5 linked regions of the Homo sapiens genome follow. The protein of the gene in region 3 purifies or fractionates together with the protein of the main gene of each other region. This does not show direct contact. Each region holds a gene or a part of one and is shown on either strand. Other genes may lie near its edges.

What was found.
Region 1: the proteins of NCAPD2 (region 3) and IVNS1ABP fractionate together in Homo sapiens (co-fractionation; one large-scale study listed by BioGRID). This does not show direct contact.
Region 2: the proteins of NCAPD2 (region 3) and ACBD3 fractionate together in Homo sapiens (co-fractionation; one large-scale study listed by BioGRID). This does not show direct contact.
Region 4: the proteins of NCAPD2 (region 3) and EML4 fractionate together in Homo sapiens (co-fractionation; one large-scale study listed by BioGRID). This does not show direct contact.
Region 5: the proteins of NCAPD2 (region 3) and PNPT1 fractionate together in Homo sapiens (co-fractionation; one large-scale study listed by BioGRID). This does not show direct contact.

The regions. Positions count from the first base shown.
Region 1 is NC_000001.11:185,310,743-185,314,259, forward strand, and holds part of IVNS1ABP (influenza virus NS1A-binding protein), read right to left. Parts: exon of another isoform or gene 1,743-3,517; intron 581-1,742; 5' UTR 353-580; intron 1-352. UniProt on the Homo sapiens protein: Involved in many cell functions, including pre-mRNA splicing, the aryl hydrocarbon receptor (AHR) pathway, F-actin organization and protein ubiquitination.
Region 2 is NC_000001.11:226,176,726-226,180,242, forward strand, and holds part of ACBD3 (Golgi resident protein GCP60), read right to left. Parts: intron 1-3,517. UniProt on the Homo sapiens protein: Involved in the maintenance of Golgi structure by interacting with giantin, affecting protein transport between the endoplasmic reticulum and Golgi. Involved in hormone-induced steroid biosynthesis in testicular Leydig cells.
Region 3 is NC_000012.12:6,521,595-6,525,111, reverse strand, and holds part of NCAPD2 (condensin complex subunit 1), read right to left. Parts: intron 3,315-3,517; coding exon 3,075-3,314; intron 2,285-3,074; coding exon 2,110-2,284; intron 1,851-2,109; coding exon 1,766-1,850; intron 1-1,765. UniProt on the Homo sapiens protein: Regulatory subunit of the condensin complex, a complex required for conversion of interphase chromatin into mitotic-like condense chromosomes.
Region 4 is NC_000002.12:42,167,983-42,172,153, reverse strand, and holds the start of EML4 (echinoderm microtubule-associated protein-like 4), read right to left. Parts: upstream 2,802-4,171; 5' UTR 2,543-2,801; coding exon 2,518-2,542; intron 2,185-2,517; exon of another isoform or gene 1,923-2,184; intron 1-1,922. UniProt on the Homo sapiens protein: Essential for the formation and stability of microtubules (MTs). Required for the organization of the mitotic spindle and for the proper attachment of kinetochores to MTs. Promotes the recruitment of NUDC to the mitotic spindle for mitotic progression.
Region 5 is NC_000002.12:55,687,341-55,690,857, forward strand, and holds part of PNPT1 (polyribonucleotide nucleotidyltransferase 1, mitochondrial precursor), read right to left. Parts: intron 366-3,517; coding exon 305-365; intron 1-304. UniProt on the Homo sapiens protein: RNA-binding protein implicated in numerous RNA metabolic processes. Catalyzes the phosphorolysis of single-stranded polyribonucleotides processively in the 3'-to-5' direction. Mitochondrial intermembrane factor with RNA-processing exoribonulease activity.

The sequences.
Region 1 (3,517 bases), on a different chromosome or scaffold from region 3:
TGGCGCACACCTGTAGTCCCAGTTACTAGGAAGGCTGAGGCAGGAGAAGCACTTGAGCCCAGGAGTTCCAGGCTGCAGTGAGCTATGATCCCACCACTGCACTCCAGCCTGGACAACAGAGATCTTATCTCTTTAAGGAAAAAAAAAAAGGCAGTAAGAAATTTTAATTTGAAGTTACTGATTTATTTAAAGTCAAAATATAGAAAAGAAAAATATGATGTTTTTTATACTCAAATGATTACTGACTTCTCTGCCTTTAAAAAAAGAGTATGAAAGGTTTACTGTACTCGACATCCGTCTTCAGAAAAACAATGTGTCTTAATACTGGACTAGGCAGAGAACATTCACTTACCTACTCTGTTGGTGGCAAATGTATTTCTGGGAACTCTTAAGTAATCCAAGGACAAAGGAGTGTTAAAAGGTGCACTTCGTCAGGGTATGAAGACAGGTGGTTGAAATGAAGGCAGGTGTGTCTTAAGCTCTAATGGTGATTCCAAAACTATCAGGCTTGAAAATGATGTAATCAAGTCCTTAAAAGCTATAGACACGAATTTCTTCTGTGATAATGATGCATCATAATCTATAACAATGATAAATTTAAGTTAGATATTCAGAATAATCAAAGACTGTCATTGATCTAGGTAGAGCAGATCATGTAAAACAAGTCCTGATCTTCAAGAGATTTGACATAAATGGCAAAAATATTCCCATTACATAAAAAAAGAACACAAATGCAATTCCACATAAACATTTTTCATTTAACTTGCAACAACCCAAGTGATTAAAAAAAAAAAAAAAAGTCCTTTCCCAAAGGGCAGGGGCTAATGACCTATGTTTATGAGAGGTATAAAAGCACAAGACTACAAAACAAATGTCAATACTGTTTAATTCTAATATTCTTTATTATTAATTTCCAACTAATATGCAAACATGAGATCTGTTTTGAGCCAGCAAGCAACCTTAGGCATTATTCCCAAGCATATATACTATGTTACTGTTCCTCAAAATGAACTCTGCACTTCCCAGGCTCTGTTAACTTTGTTCAAGTTCTTCTCTCTACCTGGAAGGCCCTTAACCCAACCTCTGCCAGAGGAAATCTTACAGCCATAGAGCCTCTGCCAAATGCTCCCAGTTGGGAAGCAGTTTCTCCTCATCCTCCACATTTAGAACCCTATCTGAGGGGTATTTATGATCTTCCAGCTGGTCTGTTTCATGCTGTATTTATATTCATGCTGTATTTATATATACTTGTTTATCTTCCTTGACTCATGGGCAAACCTTCTGTCTTGTTCATCTTTTGTATCCATCCCATCTCCTCTCTACCAGGACTAGCCTAAAAACTTGAACATAAAGATGAGTAATTTGTTGGAATAAACTAAACAGAAGGGAAAATACTGATGCCTGTGCTTTGTATAATCATTTTTCTCATACACAGTAATAAACTACCAATGGAATCATTCTGGTTCAAACCTAATCTTCAAGGTAATCAGTCCTCCTACCTATTCTCCCTCCCTCATTTTCACATCATCAATTACTAGTGTCAAATTCTGATGGTACTTATTTTGTAATCACCTGAACTGCTATTACACCACTATTAACTCTGGAAACCAGAACTAAGGAATAACTTACCTGAAATACGTGCAAATATATTCATTTTTATGGATATCTTAAGATTATTTGCCTTATACATCAATACAACAATTCTAAATCTAACAATTACGTCAAAGTGAATAATCACTTACCACAGGACTCCACTGCAGGCTGGTCCAGTTCGAATTCAACAAACCTACTATGTTTAGTTCAACATGTGTCCTAACAGGTCTCTCTGTAACAGGTTTCATTTCAAGGAAACCCAATAATGCCAATTCGGGTTGGGATTGTTGTGAATGCTTACCCTTGCATCAAAACTATATCACAGCATTAGGTAATATTGATTTCCTCTGCTCTACCTTTTATCTAGGTTAGTTAATTTGGCTTTTCTCTAAGAAACTAGTTCTAACAAATGTTTTCCAAATATACATAATTCTTTCTACACAGAGAGAACACACTATCCTAAAGAAACCTTCAAACATTTTCAGCCAAGACCTGGCTCAAACTAAGAAAATTTTCATATATATATGATTTATACTGGCATGGTCAATTCACAGGCATAGTTGGCAACTCCTAACTTCAGTTTCATAAGCTGCTCTTAAAATAAGAGGAAGGAGTCCCCATGCAAATTGTTATATTAAAATGCATCCTCTGAAAAGCCAAAAACATTATAATATGAAGGTACTATTTTAAACTTTGACCAGTTTTACTCACTTTTTACTTGTAAACTTGATCTAACAAAAAATAAAAATGGTATCCACTTACTATATTTGACAAATTGAATGATCTACCTAAAATTTATTTTGGAAAAAAATGGTTAAAATTACTGCAGCCCTTGGAGAAAACACTGGAGAATTTTTGGGGCAATTTGCATCAGACAAATTTGTACAATATTATTATGAGTTTTGCAGTAAAATGAATCCTGTATTTAGTGCTTGATTTTTATTTAGTTTTTACTCTAATTCCATGACAGTACCTGATTTTTAGTACATCAAGGTCATAATATGAACCTCATCTCTTTAATATCTACTGATCAGAGTACAAAGCTACTTGATTTTAAAAGCCAGCCCAAATCTAGATGACATTTAAGTTAATGCAAACTTACTTTATTCAATTATTGTCCTCATACACTATATACCTACTTCCCGCCCACCTCAAGTTTGGAGGGGATCAGATCAATTCCTGTCTGTAAAACCATGTTTTTGAAAGTTCCTATTTACTTTCATTAAAGTGAGCTAGGGCAAATCAAGAGTTTTAAACTACTCCCCAAATTGACGGGAGATCTTATTTGGTCTATAAAACTCAAGCACGATAACTAGTGGAATTAAAAAATGGGGAAAATTGTTTTCTTTGAAAATCCAAACCAAAAGTCCAGACATCCCAGAGTCATATAAGAGTATGAAACGTAGAATTGTTTGGTGTTTAAAATACACTTTCAACTAAATCTACACCTAGGTCACTTTTCTTACACATTTAAAATTAAAACTAGGATCAAATACAATATATTCAGATAAATTCAGCATACTTCTATGGCCACTGCAAGGGATACCGAAGACTCATAAATGAGTAATTAAACTGCTTTAATAACACCCAGAAGTTCACAGCCCGGAAAGATTAGCTTAAGTGAAATACAATTCAACAGGTCTTATCAAAGAGTTGTTAAAAAGGTAGGCACAATATGGCCTCTGCTAAAATTTTTCTCTGGCCTTCAGTAAGACCAAGATAAAACAAAAGACAATCGTTTGAGGGCAGTCAGCTCCCACCAAGTAGCCATCAGCTGCATTTTTAAAGGAAAGACTTTATAATACAAAGTAAATCAACACATCTTTTTAAAACCAGAAGTTACAGCTTTCCAAAGTAACCTCTAAAACCACCATCACCATCCATGTATATGAAAACTCGCTGAACTCATTCATTCTATCCATGC
Region 2 (3,517 bases), on a different chromosome or scaffold from region 3:
ATATGAAAAGTAAAATATACATGAAGAAAAAAATGCCTCAACTTTTGTGAATACTGACTCACAATGTCAAATAATCAGCAAAATTATAAGGCTAATTATAAAGTTTATCTGATCCATGACTGTCAATGAGATATTTTAATATTTCTTCTCAGTAAATTTAAAAAAACAGTATTTGTTAGTAGATAAATTGTTAGAAATTGTTTATTAACTGCTTTCGAAGAAACATGTCCAGCAACTTTGAGGAAAAAATGTGCACATTATTTTTAATCACATACAATCAAACATAATTGGTAATGTACCGAAGATTACATTCAGCCGTGAGTAACAGGAAACACCCACAATATTCCTGATATGAGGAAAGTGCTTATTCTCACATCAAAGTACTGGGTGAAACCAGTCACTGCACAATGCGGCAGAGGAACAAATTCCCATGTAGCTGTTTTTTTTTTTTTTTTTTTTAGACGGAGTCTTGCTTTTGTCGCTTGAACCGGGACGGGTTCAAGTGGTCCCAGTTGATGCTGGAGTGCAGTGGTGTGATCTCAGCTCACTGCAAGCTCCACCTCCCAGGTTTACGCCATTCTCCTGCCTCAGCCTCCCAAGTAGCTGGGACTACAGGTGGCCACCACCACTCTTGGCTTTTTTTTTTTTTTTAAGTAGAGACGGGTTTCACCGCATTAGCCAGGATGGTCTCCATCTCCTGAACTCGTAGATCCGCCTGCCTCAGCCTCCCAGAGTGCTGGGATTACAGGTATGAGCCACCGTGCCCAGCCCCACGTAGCTGTTTTTGACAGTACCATTGTAGCTGTCATCTTGAATCAGGAACAGTCAATACCAGTATGAACAGAGGAGTTTACTATACAAATCAGATCTTCTATCAATTTAATCCATAGACTAGGGGAGTCAGATCATCAGAGGATATTCCCAACCATGAGAGTCTGAACAGGTTGTCCGGTACACGTTAGGGCTTGCAGGAAAATCTTAAGTGCAGACGGATTTTTAGTATGAGTTGTTTTGAGCCACTATTTTTTTTTTTTTTTAGACAGGGTCTTGCTCTGTAGCCCAGGCTGGAGTGCAGTGGCACGATCTCACTCACTGCAACCTCTGCCTCCCAGGTTCATGTGATTCTCCCACCTCAGCCTCCTGAGTAGCTGGGGCTACAGGTACAAGCCACCAAGCCTGGCTAATTTTTGTGGGGTTTTTTTTGCAGAGATGGAGTTTTCCCATATTGCGCAGGCTGGTCTGGAACTCCTGAGCTCAGTGATCCACCTGCCTCAACCTCCCAAAGTGCTGGGATTACAGACGTGAGCCACTACACCCAGCCCAAGCCAATAAATTTGTGGTAATTTGTTACAAGAGCAATAGGAAACTAACATGATATACAAAACACATTTTTCAGGCAATTAAAAACAGATAATGGGATGTACATTATGTTCTTACTAAACTCACAAGTATTTAACTTTACAGTTCAAATAGGACAGCATAATTTGATACCAAGTCCAAAGCTCTGAAAGATTACAATTAAGTCCCTCCCACCTGAAATTAAGTATACAAAAGACTATTAGGGGCTGGGCGCAGTGGCTCACACCTGTAATCCCAGCACTTTGGGAGGCCAAGGTGGGCGGATCATCAGGTCAGGAGTTCGAGACCATCCTGGCTAACATGGTAAAACCCCGTCTCTACTAAAAGTACAAAAAAAAAAATTAGCCGGGCATGGTGGCGGGCGCCTGTAGTCCCAGCTACTCGGGAGGCTGAGGCAGGAGAATGGCGTGAACCCGGGAGGCGGAGCTTGCAGTGAGCCGAGATTGCGCCACTGCACTCCATCCTGGGCGACAGAGCAAGACTCCGTCTCAAAAAAAAAAAAAAAAAAAGACTATTAGGCTCACACCTCAATTGCTATTTTATAGGAGAAATCATATTTTTTCTCTTCTCTCTGGAGGCAAAGGAAAGTACCAAATTATTTCAATGTCCCTTCTAGCCTTCATTTAATGAAAGAAGGCCATAAAATCTACGGCGTGGAAAGGATGTTAAAGATAGGTGATTGAATTGCAAACTAAATCTCAAATCCTCTCTACAATATCCACCCAGCAATTGCTAACCTATGCTTGAATACTTCCTGGTGATAAGAACTCACTGTCCCAAAGCAGTCTAATCCATCTTTGAATAGCTGTGATTCTTAGCTCTTTATTCTGAGGTGGTATCTCTCAACTCCATCCACAGGGTTTATTTCCTGTCCTCAGCATTAACTAAAACACATCTAACTAATTAGACCTCAAGAAAGTCACAAAATATGTATTGTGTTTGCCCTGAGTTCTCTATTCTCTTGGCTACACATTCCCAGCTTAGTCAATCATACTTCAAATTTAAATTTAATTCCCAGCTCTGCTATTAAGTATATAACATGGACAAGTTATTTAATCTTTTGAAATCTGTTTTGTTATCAATAAAATAAATACTGCTCCTTAGGGTTCATATGAGTGTTAGAAATGTGTCCCAAAATCTTTGTATAGTGCCTGCACAGAGCAGACACTGACTAAACAGCAGCCATTATGATAATAATGGCAGGGACTTGAATTCCCACTAGGTACAAGTTGCTCTCTTCTGAATGAGCTCCATTTTGTTTTTAACCCTAAAGGATGATGCCTCAAACAAGCAGTATCCACGGCTTGTTTGAGGTGTACTCCTTGGTGCAGAGGAGAGCAGGACTATCTCTCTCTTTCCCTCATCCTAGTTACCATATTTCCACCAAAGCAGCCTAAGATCAAATCTGTTTTATTTCATGGCCATATCACACTGTTGCCTCACAGAGAATACACTTTGATTAAAATCCATCTTTTAGAAATATTAAAACTGGGCCAGGCGTGGTGGTTCACGCCTGTAATCCCAGTACTTTGAGAGGCCGGGTGGGCAGATCACCTGATGTTGGGAGTTTGGGACCAGCCTGACCCAACATGGAGAAACCCCATCTCTACTAAAAATACAAAAATTAGCCGGGTGTGGTGGTGCACACCTGTAATCCCAGCTACTTGGGAGGCTGAGGCAGGAGAATCGCTTGAACCCAGAAGGCAGAGGTTGCAGTGAGCTGAGATCGCACCACTGCACTCTAGCCTGGGCACCAAGAGTGAAACTCCGTCTCCAAAAAAAACCAAATATTAAAACTGAAAAACCAACTAGGTGCAGCAGCTCACGCCTGTAATCCCAGCACTTTGGGAGGCCGAGGTGGATGGATCACAAGGTCAGGAGTTCAAGACCAGCCTAGCCAACATAGTGAAACCCTGTCTCTACTAAAAATACAAAGATTAGCTGGGTGGGGTGGCACGTGCCTGTAGTCCCAGCTACTCGGGAGGCTGAGGCAAGAGAATAGTCTGAACCTAGGAGGCGGAGGTTGCAGTAAGCCAAGACTGGGCCATTCCACTCCAGCCTGGGCAACAGAGCAAGACTCTGTCTCCCAAAAAAAAAAAAAAAAAAGGATAATACAATGCAGTATTCCTAAATCAATGAGTAGGAAACACTCTGGGAA
Region 3 (3,517 bases):
CTGCAGTGATTTCTCCAATCCTCAAGTCCAGCCCCTCGTTACTGCCCACTGCAGCAGCCTCCACGGGCCTTCCTTCCCATGGGTTGGTCTCCTCAGCCTCTGCTTCCCCACGTCCCTTCTGTTGCACCCCAGTTTGCAGGTGCTCTCCCCTGCCTCTTGTAGGGCTTTTGCCGGTAACTGACCTATGACATCATGGCCAATCACCACCACCAGGCTCTTTTCTTTTCCCCAGTGAGGAGAAAAATGTGGCTGGCAGGAGCACGCTTCCCAGCGCCACCTCCACTCTCTGTGCCCGCAATGCAAATGCTACAAAGCAGAATGTCTCACTAAAATGCTGGGTGCCTGGCTAACACAGTTAAAGTCCTAGACTCCTGAAGTCATTCAGGGACTTCCACAGTTTAGTTCCAACCTACATTCACAACTTTATTATCTTTTCCAGATTTTTTTTTTTTTTTTTTTTTTTGAGACAGAGTCTCCCTCTGTCGCCCAGGCTGGAGTGCAGTGGCGCAATCTCGGCTCACTGCTACCTCCACCTCCTGGGTTCAAGCAACTGTCCTGCCTCAGCCTCCCAAGTAGCTGGGACTACAGGTGCCCACCACCACACCTGGCTAATTTTTTTGTATTTTTAGTAAAGGTGGGGTTTCGCCATGTTGACCAGGCTGGTCTCGAACTCCTGACCTCAGACCTCAGGTAATCTGCTGCCTTGGCCTCCCAAAGTGCTGGGATTACAGACGTGAGCCATCGCGCCTGGTCTTTTCCAGATAATTTGAACCAGAACACAGTCTTCTTTGTTCTACAATGTGAACTGTGCTCTTTCTTGGGTTCTGTTTGAAATGCCCTCCCTCCTTGCTCTGATTCTCTAAATCCTACTCATCTTTCAAGACCCAGCTTAAGTCCTACCACCTTCAGGAAGCTTCCTTGACCATTCTACCCCAAACCGCTCTCTTTCCTACTCTGTATCCCTCAGTAGAACACAGAAGTTAAGAGTATGTTTTCTAGAGCTCTTATTGCCTGAGTTTGAATCTCAAACTTTGCCACTAACTAGCTGTAACCAGCCAAGTTCAGTAACTTCTCTGTGCCTCAGATTTCTCATTGTAAAATGCAGATAATGCTACCTCACAGGGCTGTCGTGAGGATTAAACAAGTTACTGTGAGTAACGTGTGAGTGCCTGTCATATATTCAATACCATATAAGTGAGGTTGTTATTATTGCTATGACAACCATTACCCGTACAACTCATTCTGGCACTTTATTATCTACCTGCTGCATTGTTCTAAAAATGTTCTGTGGTTTTTCACTACCAACTAGACTGTTGGTTCCTTTAAAGTTGGGAACATGAAAGCAAATAGTCTTATACTTCTTTCTGGAGCTAAGTAAATTGCTAAATACATAGTAATAACTCAATAATACTTGTTGCCGGGCGCTTTGGCTCACGCCTGTAATCCCAGCACTCTGGGAGGTTGAGGCGGGTGGATCACGAGGTCAAGGGTTCGAGACCAGCTCGGCCAACATGGTGAAACCCCGTCTCTACTAAAGATACAAAAAACTAGTCGGGCATGGTGGCACATGCATGTAATTCCAGTTACTCGGGAGGCTGAGGCAGGAGAATTGCTTGAACCTGGGAGGCGGAGGTTGCAGTGAGCCAAGATTGTGCCATTGCACTCCAGCCTGGGCAATGGGGCATGACTCCGTCTCAAAAAAAAAAAAAAAAACAACCAAAATACTTGTTGAATGAATAAAGAAAGAGAAAGCAGGAAGCCTTACAATTTCCTCAAGACACTGAATGGTCCCAACCGAGGCATCCACTAGCAGCAGAGAGAGATTCTGAATCAAAGCCTGGGCCTTGGCTCTGTGGGAACAGCAGAGATCAGCGGTCACTATAAGATTGGGAAGCTGAACTTGGCAAACAGTGATTAGGGCTATCCCACCACAGTGCTACAAAACTGCTCTCCCTGGAAACCGAGCCCCACCCTAAGCCCCACTATGATGGACTGCCTATGGATCTGGAACTCCCCTGGAGAAATGCACCTCTTCCTTTAGGAGACAAGGGAAGTCCTGTGAGAAGCTGACCTTGGAAAAGTCAGCAAAGGCAAAAGCACCCCATATACCTGGCAGAGTCCCCTTTGGGGTTGAGGTAGAGTTGGCGGTAGGCATTAAGCACGGCTTCCCGGACACCAGGCTCCTTAGACCAGATGAGAGGCAGCATACGGCGCACCCCAAACAGGGCCTGGGGTACCCCAAATTGGAAGACCATCACAAAGAATTCAATCACCTCCTGCACCACTGAGAGAACATGTACAAATGTCACCTATCTACTTCACAAAACTCCCCCAATACCTAACGACAGAACCTTTCTGAATGTAGCAAGATGCAAATGGAGGCCTTCCGCATTTTCCCTGAGAATGTCGACTCCTCCTATGATGCCTTATCATGAAATACTATATGCATTAAAATGTATAAGCTGTAAGTGGCTAGAGGAAGCAAACAGAAAAAAAGAACCCCTGCCTTTTTTTTTTCTTTTCTTAAGACACAGGTTCTTATTCTGTTGCTCCGGCTAGAGTGCAGTGGCATGACCACAGCTCACTGTAGCCTCAAACTCCCGGGCTCAAGCAATCCTCCTGCCCAGCCTTCCGAGTAGCTGGAACTACAGGTGCGTGCCATCACGCCCAGTTAGTTTTTGTTTCTTTGTAGAGATGGGGTCTTGCTATGTTGCCCAGGCTGCTCTCGAACTCCTGGCCTCAACCTGTCTTCCTGCTTTGGCCTCCCAGTTTTGTAGGGATTACAGGCATGAGCCATCGCGCCCAGCCGAGAACCCCTGCCTTTTAAAGGAGCAGATAGATATATCAATAAAATATGGAAAAGAACTCCAAGATCCATGGCCGGGTGCAGTGGCTCACACCTGTAATACCAGCACTTTGGGAGGCTGACGCAGAAGAATTGCCTGAGCCCAGGAGTTGGAGACCAGCCTGAGCAACAAAGGAAGGCCCCATCTCTATTGTTAATAAAAATTTAAAAAATTAAAAAATCCAAAAGAACCCCAAGGCTGTCCTTATAGAAAGGGACTCTGGCATACCTGTAGTTGTGTTTTCATACATCATCTTGCTGATGATGCCAATGGCCTCTGTAATCTTCCGGGAGAAGCTGTAGGCATCCTGCAGATACTGTACCAGCATCTCCTGCTTCACTAGTTCATCATTTCCCCTGGATTCCTCAGGATCCGACATATTGGGTTTATTTTTACAGACAGTCTGTCCTGTGACCATGTTTCCTGTAGACTCCCGGGGATTCTTTTCTTGTGTGGAAGCTGCTGGGCCTAAGGAGTTAGAGAAGTACAGGATGGTTTCGTTCAAGGGGATACAGGGGAATCCAACAGCTGTCAACATTCCTGGATATTTACTTATTTATTTTCCTTCTTCTTTTCTTTTGAGATGGGGTCTCACTCTGTTGCCTAGGCTGTGCAGTGGCAATGATCACCGCTCACTGCAGCCTCAACTTCCCCGGGCTAAGGTGATTCTC
Region 4 (4,171 bases), on a different chromosome or scaffold from region 3:
AAATACACACATACTTCCTTGAGAATAAATGCTTTCAATAGTTGTAACCCCAGAAGAACTTCACGTTTTGACTTCTTGTTTAAAAAAAAAAAAAGTTTTTAAACACCTACTAGAGTAGAAGTGCTTGCCTTTATATTCATGGCTCTCCTGATGGTAAAATAAAGATCAATGTAACTCTAAGCTCTAGGCTAATTAACTGCAGAGAACAGAAACAAGCAATTTGGCAAGAGCTGAGCAAAGCTCCGCTTAAAGACTACCAGTAAAATATACCAGCACTACTCCTCCCCCACCCCTTTAAGGTTTCAATTAAGATGGGGCCTAGTTTTACTCTTGCAAGGGGGACAGAAAGAGAAAGCACAGAGCTCCCACTGAGAAGTATCTTCATCAAGAACAGCTCCAGAAATACTGCCAGGAACCATTTCCTTCCCTCTCTGCAGATGCAGGTTCCTCTGATAGGCATATCTCCTCTGCTCCTGATTAACACCATATCTAAAGGAAAGTCTCATCACATACCACCCAAAGCATGGCATCAAATGAATTTTTTAAATCCAACATTAGGGTCAACAATGACGCTCTTTATGAAAAGTGTGAGCCCCAACTGCAATTCATCTTCATCTCTCGGTCTTTTGTATCACTTGCCTCATAAACTGGTTAAGAAAGAAGAAAGCTATTACAAAGCATAATCAATGTTTGAAAATAAACATTAAGTGCCCCAACTGGTGAGAAAGACTCCTCCTAAACACTTACAGAAGATGAAGCTTTAACAAGCCCTCCAGAAATCTTTAGAGCCAACACGAAAGAAGTTAAAGTGATCTCACCACTCCTACAGGATGAGGACCCAATACAGTATAAAGATAGCACAGCTCTCCACAACATCCCCTAAGAAGACACTCAATTTTTACTTTAGTATAAGATCAGCCCTTCAGCGGACATATAGGACAAGTTTTTCGGTCCAACACTTACTGTGAATAAACCAACGCATGGAGCTAAAAAAGAACCAGGGAAAAATGGATGTCTCTCTAAAAAGAGCCCAACCTAAGTAAGGAATTACAAGACATCAAAGGTTAGATAATGGACAACAGGTGCCTTTGAGGAGGAAAGAGTAACACAACACTCAGTTGCCTCCTATTTTAGGATTTCCACTCTGAAAGCAATATAACGACAATTTTTTCTGCCCAAGAAAAAGGGAAGGCCAAAATTATAGGTTTTACTATTTAATATCTATAATAGGCCCATTGCTCTTTGACTTACTTTTTTACTTTAGATTTTAAAAATCCATCTCATCTCGATATTATCTGGATATAGTACGGCCTATGGCCAGACTGCTCACTGATCAGTGAACATTAACCAAGTAGAGACTTATTATCAAGAAATGTAAAAGAAAGGCGTCTGAATACAAGCTACCTGCACATAAAAAACTCAAAATACAGTTCCAGCAGTAGGTATCACACAACTGCGTTATCAGCCAAAGCTGAAACTGTTTCTCTCACCATTCTAACAGTTGAACTTAATCTTTTACTAGATTTCAATGGCCTCGAAGAATAGTAATTCCAGATTCAGCTTCTAGGGCAGCGAATACTAGCCTGGAGTTTTGATTTTCCTAGCCAGAAGATTACCTTCATCTGGTGAAAGGAACACTGAAAAGGCACTTCAGCCTATTTAATAACCTCTTCCCTTTCTCCATTCCACAAAGACAACATCTTCCAAAAATGGAGAATCCTTTCCTTCCCTGATAGAGGCCCCCTTTCCTATTGATTCATTGGGCAGAATCACTTCTCCCCAGCATGTATGCAGAACCAGAAAACACTTCTGCTTTCACTCTTAAAGAGGGTCCCCCAACACAGATGCACCTCTTCCTTTCCTGCATTAAGCAAATGATGCTCCGATGCTTCTAGGTCTCTCCACCACTGCAAAATGCTCAGAGAAGTGGAGGGATTGAAAAGGAAGTTGCCTACTACTCTGAAGGATACTGGAAAGTCGCCTTCAAATCTAAAGTGAAGACTTGGGGGCGGGGGATGCCCCCTTCCTGAAGAGGGAATGAGGGTCCCTCCCCTAAAAAGGAGCCTCTGTTCGGGTGAAGGCGATCCCCACCCTGAAAGAGAGGCGTGTATGTGGAAAGGTGGTGGAAGGTTGTACCCTGAAGAGGAGCCTGGATTTGAAGAAATGTCCCAACTCTGAAGGGGGGTAAGTGGAGGGAGCCGTGAGTGTACGGGGAGGGGTGTGCCAGCTATCGGGGGGCCTGAGAAGGAAGGGGTTCCCACTTTGGGGGAACGAGGGCCCCGCACTGAAAGGGGCTCCGGGAGGAAAGGAGGGTCTGACACAGAGGAGAGTTGGACATGGGGGAGGGGCCCTCAGTCCACCGGAGTCCGCGGAGGGGCGGCAGCCTCGAAGGGAACATGTGCAGTGGAGCCGCTGCCACCCCGAGGGGCAGGCGGGAGGGCAGGGCCTGGGCTGTGTGCGGAAGGAAAAAAGTTCCTACCCTTCGCAGAAGACGCAGGACTCCCCAGCCGTACTCACCGAGACTGCCGGCGAAACCGTCCATCTTGCGGGGAAAGCGCCGGGCTCCGGGCTTAGAGGGGCGGGCACTTCATTCAGCGGACCGACAGAGTGGCCGACGCTGAGCCTGACCCGCTCGTTCTCTAGGTCGCCCGGCTCGGCTACCGGCTCCCGCCTCCGTCGTCCGTCCGTTCGCCCTGGGGTAGTAAGCCGCGGCCGCCCGAACCACTTCCCCGTCACGTTGAGAGCCGCGCCGCTCAGCCGCCTGCCCGGCCTCCCTCCCAGGCAGCAGCCGCGAGCGCCGCGCCGCGCCGCGCCCCGCCCCGCCCCCGCGCCCGCGCGCAGCAGTAGCCCCGCCCCGCGCACGCCGTCACACTTCCGACTCCGCCTCCCACGTGACGCCACGGAGGCGGGGTCTTGCCAGCCCCGCCCTCTCACCTTGCCTCGGCCTCGGCGTTTGTCCGCCTCGCGCCAGGCTGGTGGTTGCGCCTGCGCGGTAGGCCTGCTGAAGGCTGGGGACCACGGTTTGGAAGCTGGTTCCAAACAGGTGGGGATAAGGCATAGACTCTGGCCTGCGATACTCTGATGCATGAAGGATCCTCTCCCTATGTGGCCCCTGGGAAGCCCGCAGAGCCAAGACTGGACCCCCGTGACGGGAGATGACCACCACGTGGGTCCTACAAGGACACTAAAGAAGCAACCAAGAGGGAGAGGTTCTCCCTCTCCCCCAATAGGGTGGGGGACAAATAGGGGCGAAGCTTCTTGACTAGCTCGATACCACCACTGCCACAGCCGCAGGGCCCGGGACAGATCAGAAGCAAGGAATTTTAGTGCTGGACATGACCCAAAAGTTCATCTTGTCTAACCCTTCTTATGAAGAAAAACACAGAGCCTTAGAGAGGACAACCTGCCCAAGGTCATCGAACCTAGTAGAAGCAAAAACTCAGCCTTCCTTACTCTCCCTAGCGTTCTGTCGTCTAGGGGTGCAAAACGACCATATATGGCAGGCTATAGGATGGCCTGCTAGGGAACCATAATAAGGGTTATTTCAAATGAAGTAACACTGAGTTCTAGGCCCAACTCCGTATGACTCAAGAGTGTCAAATCACCTAATTTATTTAGGCGTCACTTTATTCATTTGCAAATTGGTTGTCTGGACATGTAACCAAAACATGTAAATATACATAGCGTTCATATTCTTCCTCCCTTCCCCAACACGATTTCCCATACTTCTAAAGACTTTCTCATGGTTTGTCAAGTCCCTCCTGGGGCTCAGTTGTGCAGATTAGAGTAAGAGAGAGAAGAGCTGTAAGGTACTGAAGAACTGAATTGATCTATACATAATAAATTGATAAATACATAATAAAAAGCTGAGTTAGGGGAAAACAGAGTCCTACTACACAGAGTTGCAGGAGAGAGGGACAAACAAGAAGGGAGACAAGAAATATGTAATGATGAGAGAGACTTAGAGGAATTAAATGATTGAAAGGATTGTTAAACCTTCTTGGGGTATACGTCTCCCTTTGTTGCCTCTTTAAAAATCTTCCCTAAAAATGTAAATTACTTTGCATTTCTTATTTGGATATAAGACCTGTTTCTGAATACCATACTATATGGAGACTGGCCATAACGCAGCCAAGATAAATTCAGGTTACAGACTAAACGGTGTCTAAAA
Region 5 (3,517 bases), on a different chromosome or scaffold from region 3:
GAGGCAAAAGAATCGCTTGAACCCAGGAGGCAGAGGTTGCAGTGTGCCAAAATCGCACCACTGCACTCCGGCCTGGAGATGGAGCAAGAGTCCACCTCAAAAAAAAAAATAGGTCACTTAATACATGCAGTGCTCTGGACTCTGGTTGTCTGGAATGATTCTTGCAGTAGAAATTATCTTAGTAGTATCTGAATTAATTTCCAGTACCAAAATTCTAAGTAGTTACACGATGTTGTAGTTACACATTTAGTATGAGTCTCCGTAACCATTTTTAAGATGAATTTTAAAAATCTGGACTTTTTACCTGTACTACAGCAGAGCCATCTGCAAATCTGGCCAGCTTTCCAGAAGATATTTCTAATTTCCTGTTTAAAAATAAAAATGCAATACAAGAAGACTTAGGTCATCTGTACAATTCCTGCTTAGTATAAAATAATAAAAGATTCTAAGGGAAGATTCTAACCCCCAACCCACCCACTCCACCAACAAAAAGGGGCAGAATCCATGATCATTATCAAAAGTAAAAGTGGAATTTAAGAGTGGCTTAAAGAAGAATACGGAAACCAAGGCACAGGATTGATCTGAACAGGAAAGTCTTTTGGAGGTTCAGAAGTTAACTGCTTCCCTAAATGTTAATTCCCATGTACCATCTATTTTTTTTTTGAGGTGGGGGGTGGTCTTTGTGCCTTGTATCTTCTTTTTCTTTTCTTTTTTTTTTTTTGAGACAGGGTCTTGCTCTGTTGCCCAGGCTGGAATGCAGTGGCACAATTACAGCTCACTGCAACCTAGAACACCTAGGCTCAAGCGATCCTCCAACTCAGCTTCCTGAGTAGTTGGGACTACATGTGCACACCACTACACTTGGCTAATTTTAGTTTTTGTATGGATGAGTTCTTACTATATTGTTTAGGCTGGTCTTGAACTCCTGGCCTCAAGCAATTCTCCTGCCTTGGCCTCCCAAAGTGCTGGGATTACAGGTATGAGCCACTGTGCCTGGCTCCATTTACCATCTTAGTACAGTCTCTTATCATCTCTCACCTTGTTGACTACAGTAATGTTTTAACATACAAACAGGATTGTTTCCCTACTTAAAAATCCTTTAGCCAGGCGTGGTGTCTCCCACCTGTAATCCCAGGACTTTGAAAGGCTGAGGCAGGCCTGATCACCCGAGGTCAGGAGTTCAAGACCAGCCTGGCCAACATGGTGAAATCCCATCTCTACAAAAAATATCAAAATTAGCTGGGCATGGTGTTGCGTGTCTATAATCCCAGCTACCAAGGAGGCCGAGGCAAGAGAACTGCTTGAACCCAGGAGGGGGAGGTTACAGTGAGCCGAGATTGTGCCAATGCAGTCCAGCCTGGGTGACAGAGTGAGACTCTGTAACAAAAACAAAACAAAACAAAACAACAACAACAACAACAACAACAAAAAACTTTAGAATTTCTCCCAATGCTTTTAGGACAAAATATAAACTCCTAAATATTGCCTATAAGGACCTTCATGTTCAACAGAAGGGGAAAGAACAATTTTCAATTCAATGAGGAAAGAGTAGCCTTTTGAGGCAATAGTGGACAACTGGATGCAAAAAAGAATGAATCTTCATAAATTAAGTCAAAATGGATCCTAGACCCAAACGTAAGAGCTAAAACAATAAAAGTTTTAGAAACAAAACACAGGAGTAAATCTTCAGAGACTTGGGCCACACAAAGTCTTAAATATGACATCAAAAGCATAAATGACAAAAGAAAAAAATAGGTAAGCTGATTTCATCAAAATTTAAAACTTTAATTAAGAAAGTAAAAGAAACACCATAGATTAAGAGAAAAATATTTGCAAACCATGTATCTGATAAGGGACTTGTGTTAATATCTAGAATATTTAAAGAATGCTTACAATTCAACAATAAAGACAACTGAATTTTAAAACTTGGCAAAGGATTTGAATAGCCATGTCTCCAAAAAAGACATACAAATGGCCAGTAAGTACATAAAAATATGCTCAATATCATTAACTATCAGGGAAATACAAATCCAAATCACAGTGAATACCACTTGACAGCTGTTATGAATGTTCCTTGTAGCATTATTCATAATAGTTCCCAAATGGAAACAACCCAAATGTCCATCAACTGATGAATGGATAAGCTAAATGTGGTATAATCCATACAACTGATTATTATTCAGCGATAAAAAGGAACAAAGTACTAATACATGTCACAACATGGATAAACCCTGACAACATTATGTTAAGTGAAAGAAGACAGTCACCAAAGACTATGTTTCCATGTAAGAAATATTCATAATAGGCAAATCCACAGCGATGGAAAGTAGATTAGTGGTTACCTGGGGCTGGGGAGAAACGCTAAGTGACTACTACTAATGAATTTCTTTTTAGGGTGATAGAAGTGTTCTAAAATTGATGGTGGTAATGGCTGCAAAACTTTGAATATACTAATATCCATTGAACTGTACACTTTATTTATCTGTATTTACTTATTTTGAGATAGGGTCTTGCTCTGTTGCCCAGGCTGGAGTGCCGTGGTGCCATCTCAGCTCATCTCAGCCTTGACCTCCCAGGCTCAAGTGATCCTCCCATCTCAGCCTCCCGAGTAGCTCGAAATACAGGTGTGCACCACCATGCTGGGCTAATTTTTAAATTTTTTGTAGAGATGAGGTCTCACTATGTTACCCAGGCTGGTCTCAAACTCCTGGACTCAAGCAATCCTCCTGCCTTGGCCTCTCAAAGTGCTAGGATTACAAATATAAGCCACTGCTCCCAGACGAGTTGTACACTTTAAATTAACTGTATGGTATGTGAATTATATCTTAATAAAGGTGTCTTATATACATGAAATAGGCAGCACTATTAGCCTTATTCCCTAGTTTCAGCAGAGAATGCAAAAAGAGGTTACTGATGTCTTGAAACAGACCAGCAAAACTTGTCAAAGAGCTCAAGATTCATCAAAAGGTGTTTTGAGATGAAACCAAGTCAGTGACCCCTGAAGATACAGAGAAAGAGAAAGATGTTGTGTCACATGAACTCAGTTTCGGCAACATTCTATCATAGTCTGGTGCTGAAAATGCACAAACCAAACACAAGCATGTAGACAGGCCCAATGCCCTACCCCAAGTAAGATTATTCTGTCTTTCACATACCAAGGAGATGAAGGAACAACCCTTAATATTTTCACCTGTTAAATACCTTTGCCAGAAGCCTGAGTTAATGAAAAGCATATTTATCTATTCAGTTAGACTCATTTTGTTAAGTTTGAAAGTCAGAACAAAGTATGTACATTTAATATATGTTAATAAATACAATGATTTTGTAGTATCAAATTCTTGACTCTGAAATATTAGTTTTTTTTTAAAATCAGGGAATATTTGAGAAATTCTAGTTGGGTTTCTATTTATTCAACACAGATGTTATAATGATGAAAGCCTACAATAAAATGGGTCTCCTGTGACTAATGGGAATGAGGTACAGAGAGGCTGATGCTGGATTAGTATGTTGAGTAGAT